2 separate regions of the Homo sapiens genome follow, and region 1 is reported to be linked to region 2. Evidence: microRNA targets listed by miRTarBase, many of them from high-throughput screens and not tested one by one. Region 2 holds a microRNA gene; the other region holds the end of a gene's coding sequence.
The links. Region 2 holds the annotated microRNA hsa-miR-4662a-5p (UUAGCCAAUUGUCCAUCUUUAG, at 2,167-2,188, opposite strand). A microRNA usually pairs through its seed, bases 2 to 8, with sites in the 3' UTR of a target mRNA and lowers its output. Matches are read on the target gene's strand: a 7mer-m8 pairs with bases 2 to 8, a 7mer-A1 pairs with bases 2 to 7 and ends in A, and an 8mer does both.

Region 1: the mRNA of KLHDC10 is a reported target of hsa-miR-4662a-5p. Seed matches in the 3' UTR shown: 7mer-m8 at 1,600-1,606.

Annotation. Positions count from the first base shown.
Region 1 is chr7:130,130,153-130,133,520 of GRCh38, forward strand. KLHDC10 (kelch domain containing 10) reads left to right here. Exons shown (of 10, transcript NM_014997.4): 10 at 385-3,368. The coding sequence ends at 594. Among named protein-coding and RNA genes, the nearest start is that of LINC03008, 9.9 kb to the right of the region's middle.
Region 2 is chr8:124,820,763-124,824,177 of GRCh38, reverse strand. MIR4662A (microRNA 4662a) reads right to left here and starts at 2,193; the gene lies at 2,127-2,193. MIR4662B (microRNA 4662b) reads left to right here and starts at 2,120; the gene lies at 2,120-2,200.

The DNA.
Region 1 (3,368 bases), not on the chromosome of region 2:
TAAAAATACAAAAAAAAATTAGCCGGACGTGGTGGCGCGTGCCTGTATTCCCAGCTACTCTGGAGGCTGAAGCAGGAGAATGGCGTGAACCCGGGAGGCGGAGAGCTTGCAGTGAGCTGAAATTGCGCCACTGCACTCCAGCCTGGGCGACAGAGTGAGACTCTGTCTCAAAAAAAAAAAAAATCATATATATATATATATAGTTTTTCCCTTAGTAATTCATTAATTATTTAAACCCTCTTGATCTCCACATGGTATTGGGATCAGTGAGGAATTCTTGTTTCATTTCATTTTGATTCCATCTACTATGCTTTTTCCCCACTGAGTCTTCAGCCTTGTATGTTTCTCTCCCGTTTGAATTTGTCCTCTTTTGACTACTCATAGGCTGGTTGCATGTACATTCATGGAGGAGTGGTGAACATCCATGAAAACAAACGGACTGGGTCATTGTTTAAGATCTGGCTGGTGGTACCTAGCCTGCTGGAACTGGCATGGGAGAAGCTGCTTGCGGCCTTCCCTAACCTTGCAAACCTCTCCCGAACACAACTTCTGCACCTTGGACTCACACAGGGACTCATCGAACGCTTGAAATGAGGATTTCTGGACTGTTCATTGATACTGGAAATGTTAATTTAAAGAGACTCCTTTATTTATGGGCAGTGTAGAATGTGCTACAAAGAGGATTGGTTACCCTGATCAAGGCCTTATTTAGAAAATACATCAGATGCCTTTCTGTAAATTGGTTTTTCAGTTTATGGACATCTCACTTTCCCACGTGCTTCCTTCTTTGCTTCTGTTCCTCCTGACCCATTACATGCACATGTACTCACATACTCCCTCTTCCTTCTCGATGGAGTTAAGGGAAAGCCTGAAAGTACCTTAATAATGTTATTAATCAAGACAGATTCCTTTTTAAAGGAATTCTGAATAGTTCCATGTCATACAATATTCTAGAAATTAAAACATCATCAACATAAAGAAAAATGAAATTAAAAAATTTTTACATCTAGCAACAGCAACAACCACAAATTTAGGGGAAGCTGAGAAGGCTAACCTTGGGAATCTTGCAGGTTATACTTAAACCTAGATGTTTAACTTAGTGTTTTCAAGATGTGTCTAACTGAGTAGTAGCTGGGTCTGATGGCAGCAGTGCTTGCCATCTTGTTGCACAGATAACTCAAACCTACCCTTTGGCTTTGAAGGAAGGTTAAGCAGCCCAGCAACTCTTGGTTAGTGATTTCTTTCTCATCCTCATGGTGCCAGCAGTGGTTAGAGTTGGTTTGTCAAAAGACTTACGTGTGTGTCGTGGTCGTGCTCTTTGTTGTTGCTCTTAGAAATTATGGCACCAAGAATGTTTCAAACGGAAAAACTTGTGGTGGCCAAAGTTCTTCATTCTGGCAGTTTTGAAACTCTCTTATGCTTATTAATGGTTTTAAATATCTCTTTGACTTCTTCATGGGGAATTGTAGACCCTAAGTATGTGGTGTAAATGCCATGTAACATGAACACAAGCTCCCGAGGGAGGCCAGAGAAGAGCCAGGCAGAGAAAACCTGCATCCTCTGGGCTTGTTAACTTGGCTTCCACTCGGGCTGTGGTCTTTGGCTATCATCTTGGCCATTTCCTTTTGAGAACTTGTTTCTTTTCTAATCTCTGGGCCAGGTACCTGCCATTTTCTCAGGCAGTTGGTCCTTGATTTTTCCCTTAGCTTGTTGCCTTCTTTTCCGTCTGCTTTAATGTGCATGGTGCTGTGAATAATTGTCTAGTAATTGGATACAAGGTCTTGGGGGTAAAGCCACAGGTCATCCTTCCTGAAGAACCAAGTATCATTTAAAAACTAGCATGAGGAAGGAATGAAACTGAGTAGCATTCATTTTGTGTGTGTGAAATTTTAGTTCTGGTTTGTTTGATTTGTTTTTTTTTTAATTCTAAAAAGAATGACATAAATTTTCACTCGCTTTGCCATCTGGCTGCTAGGGGAGCTGAGCAAGAGGCTCACCATGCGCATGTGTAAGCCGCAGGTGTACTCAAGGTGCTGAAGGCGTGCAAGGGGCAGCGCTGGTCCTCCCGGGGCCAACTCACAGCAGGAGACTCGCATGGGAGAGTTGGAACACATCTTTCCTTTAAGTGCCTCTTTTTTCACCTAGCTTTTAAAGTTATTCTTTGTCCTTCATCTCAGAAGGGATCTCTTTAGCTTATGTGTGGATTTAAAATGACCTTTGAGCTACGGTTAAAAAGCTACCATCTGGTGTTCAGTTCTGGGAAAGAGAAAACCGTAGCCTCCAGACATGCTCCTGATTTCTAGGCCTTATCATACCATCCCCTCTGTGATGGGTTGAGTTCATGGAGCCTGTATTCTGGGAAGTCTTATAATAACCACGCACCTGTGAACGTGGGTCCTTTCTGGGGAGTGAGGAATGTGGGAGAGAGGCAGAAAAAGGAGCAGCTCCTCTAGGGGCCCATCCTCCCACATCTTGCCATTACCAGTCTGTGTAGCACTTAACCTCCTGCCACCACTGCCAGGCTTGCTCCTCCGTTCTCTCCCAGAGCAAGTCAGTCTGAGCAGCTCCATTAGTCCAAAACAGAGCTTTGCTGCATGACTTCAGCCTGGCCTCTGGATATTTGGTGGAAATATATTCTAAATTGAACAAGCCAGGCTGTCCAGGGTGGCAAGAGGATTTTTGACCTGGATTTATACAGGGACCAAAGACTGAATGCTCAGCCTCTGTGCTTAGACTTTCATGGTCCTTAGGATAGAAGTGAGTCTCTAGCCCTGCTACACCAGAGAGCTGAAGAGAGATGTGGTCTGGTTCCATCCATACTTGCTGGCATCCTTTGTTAAGCCTTCTGAGGGCAGTCTTCTTTGAGGTAGACCTTGGAGGCCTGACATCGAAGACCTGTGTGTTTTATTTTCATAAAAGTATATATCCTTGGTCTAAAGTGTCTTCTTTTAATATAACACTAGTAAAAATGACATGGTATGACCAGCACTGAGTGCTATAGAACCACACATGTGTACATGTTCTGGATGCCAAATGAGACTGTGTGTAAATGACTAAGTGTAGATAACTAGAAATTAGATAGGGGTCATCAGGCGTTTCGGTATACCTATAACCAGCACTCGGAATTCCTGACACTGTTTACTTGATTTAGGAAAGTTTATGCCTGCTGCTTCTCTGCCTCTTTGAGGTACTCCCAGCCGTCTTACTACAGTCCTGTAAATTTAAGTGCAATATATAGAAACATATGGATATATACAGATTATATATAGGGTGTAACTATAAAGCAGGTAGACTACTTTTTTGCATCTTGGGGAAGTGAGCTCATTACTTTAGGTTCAAATTATGCCAAGAATTTTAGATGTGATCAG
Region 2 (3,415 bases):
AACTGAGAACCTGCAAAGGCATGTGACTAGCCTCGATGAGAAAGTGGCCCAACTGGGGCTTGAGCCCAGGTCTCCCGCCCTCCATGCTGGTGTGCCTTGGTAGGAGTGTGGACCTGAACTACAACAGGTCATTCACCCAGGCCCCCAGCTCTCCATCCCACAAATGGGCAGGGAAAGGCAGGGAGGTATAAAACACCGGCTTCCTACCTTCTGCTTCGATCCACAGAGAAGACTTAGGCCAGAGTGGCCCTGCACGTCCGCCTTTCCCCTCTCAGGGAGTCCCTCTTTCTGGGTTTGAGTCTTGCCAGTCCGAAACACGTGCGAATAGAATCCCAAAAGCACAGGGCCCAGGCTTTTTTCTGGGCGATGTGCTGTTTTTTTTTTTATATCTCAGACTATGGCTGTTACTGTCCATGGGCTCAACTAATGCAGAGAATTGTAGGACATCTAGCCCTGCTCCTAAAGGAGGCAAAATGATCCTTATCATGCCTGTTATAGCCAAGGAAGGCTGGACCCAATTCCACAGAACTCGAGATGGCGCTTTTCATTTCAAAGAAAAGACACTATGAGCCTTTCTCATATTTCACAGCATGCTGTGTGTTGCACTTGACCTCTACTCTTGCCCTCAGCTTCCCCAGGTGGCCTCGCCTCCCTGCTGCAGCCCCAAAGCAGTAAAGCTACAGCTCTGGGCCATGGGCTGTGGCTTCAGTGATCTAGGACCTGATTCTCCTAAAAACCACAAATGGATAGTTCTTCCAAAGACCCAGGGTCCTCATAGAACTCTCTAGAAACAGTAATGATCTCCTTGGAGCTCAAACAGTCCCTGAGCTATCAGACCCTGCCAACACCAGGGCTTAATGCTCAGGGAACACATTTTATGAGAGCAACTGTCACTCCTGAGCTTCTGTGGGTCACTTGAAATCACCCAGTTATTTTTCACTCAGCTGAGGGGCAGTATAGTTCTGACGGGTGGCTTTGGGTTCACTGCCTTCAACTCCAGTCAGAAAACGTTAGTGCTGAAATGGATCCGGGGTACAAATAGTTGGGTTGTTGACATGCTTTCTTCTGTTGTATACATAAAGGTTCCACATACAAAAACCTATTTGCAAAGAGAGGTCAGATGCTTAAATGTGAATAATAAAAATGCTTATCCATGGGTACTCTAGTTTAATCTCCTCATTACAAGAGGAATCTGAGGCCCAGAGAGAGAAAGTGACTTGTCCAAAATCATACAACTAATATTGCAGCCAGCAATAGAACAAAGAGAGCTCAGGAATTCTGGGTCCCAGTGACTATGGAAAACAATTGTCTGAAATTTTACCACTAGAAATTGCTACTCCCTGCCCCATACTACCTGAGTCTTATTTAGGTAAACAGATAGTAAATATAAACATTATCATTGTAAAAAAATGTTTTAAAGACCAAATATATTTATAAAGTTTTTTAAAGTGATCTTTTGTACCCCTTTGTACTCTACCCAATCCCATTCATTTCCCGAAGGATGTCCGATGTTAACAAATGAGTGTCAAGTCCTTCTAGGCCTTTTTCTATGCACTTAGGAATGTGTTTACAATATATGACTGGGTTTTAAAAATACATACTTATATACTATATGTATGTAGATATAAGTATAAATTTATAAGCCATATTTATATATTATGCCATTTATAAATATAAAATCAAATTGTTCTGTTTTGAGACTTCCTTTGTTCACCTAACCTTGTGTCTTGGCACTTTTTCTCTCTCTTTTTTTTTTCTTTTTGAGATTTTGCTCTTGTTGCCCAGGCTGGAGTGCAATGGCACAATCTCAGCTCACTGCAACCTCCACCTCCCAGATTCAAGCGATTCTCCTGCCTCAGACTCCTGAGTAGCTGGGATTACAGGTGCCTGCCTCCATGCCCACCTAATTTTTGTATTTTTAGTAGAGACAGGGTTTCGCCATGTTGGCCAGGCTAGTCTCAAACTCCTGACCTCAGGTGATATAACCATCTTGGCCTCCCAAAGTGCTGGGATTACAGGTGTGAGCCACCGTGCCCATCCATGGCACTCTTTCCATGTTGGTCAATAGAATCTTGATGTTTTGTCGATGGCTTCATGGTATTCCATTGTATGGATGTACCACAATTTCTATTTAGCCAATTGTCTATCTTTAGGCATTCAGAATAGCTAAAGATGGACAATTGGCTAAATAGACACTGTGGTACACAATGGCTTTTTCTGTTGCAGCCATGGTTGCAGTAAACTTCCTTGTATATAAATCTCTGGGACATGAGCCAATGTTTCTTCAGAAGAGATACCTAGAAGTGAAGATGTGAGATCATTTGTCTACAGAAGGTTTCACTTTAAGTTGTAATGACTCGCCTTAATGTTGTCCAAAGGTTGTTTTTCTAAACCTTATTTGAGGGCCCACAACAGCCATAAACTTTTACTTATGTTTCACCTAGAATCATCACAGCAATCCTGTGAAAGCAAAGTATGATCCCTATTTTTCAAAAAAACTCACTGAAGTAGGAACAGACGAAAAATATCTCAATTTGTGAAAAAGCATTTACAAAAAAAAAAAAACATCTAACATCATACTTAATGGTGCCAACTGAACGTCTTCCCACTGAGATTGGGAATAAGACAAAGATGTCTGCTTTCAACATCTTCTTCAACAGGGTAGTAGAAGTTCTAGCCAGTGCAATATAGCAAGAAAAAGAAATACAAGACATACAGATTGAAAAGAAAGAAATAAAATCATCTCTATTTGCAGATAACATGATTGTCTATTTATACAATCCTAAAGAATCTAAAAAACATAAACTAAAATAAACCTCCTAGAATTAATAAGTGAATTAAGTAAGGTCACAGAATACATGATCAACACTCAAAAATCAAATGCATTTGTTTATCCTGTCAATGAACATGGGGAAACTGAAATTAAAAACAATACCATTTACAATCACTTCAAAGAAAATAAAATACTTAGGTATAAATACATATACTATGTCTCTGATGAAAATTACAAAATGCTGATGAAAAAATAAAGACCTACATAAATGAGGAGAAATACCATGTTCATAGACTGGAAGACTCATCATAGTGGAGATGTCAATTCTTCCCAAATTATCAATAGTTTAACACAATTCTTATCAAAATCCCAAAAAGATTTTGTAGACAAAGCCAAGCTTATTCTAAAATTTGTATGGGAGGCAAAAATTTTGAAAATAAAATAGCTGTGATAACTATTTTAAAAAGTAGGAGGAAGCACTCTACCTTGTGTTAAGTCTCACTATATAGCTACAGTTGCCAAGGTAGTATGATATTGGTGGAGAGATAAACCCACAAATCAATGAAACAGAATAGAGGACTCAGAAATAGACCCACAAAAATATACTCAACTGATTTTTTACCAAAAATACCAAAAGTGCAA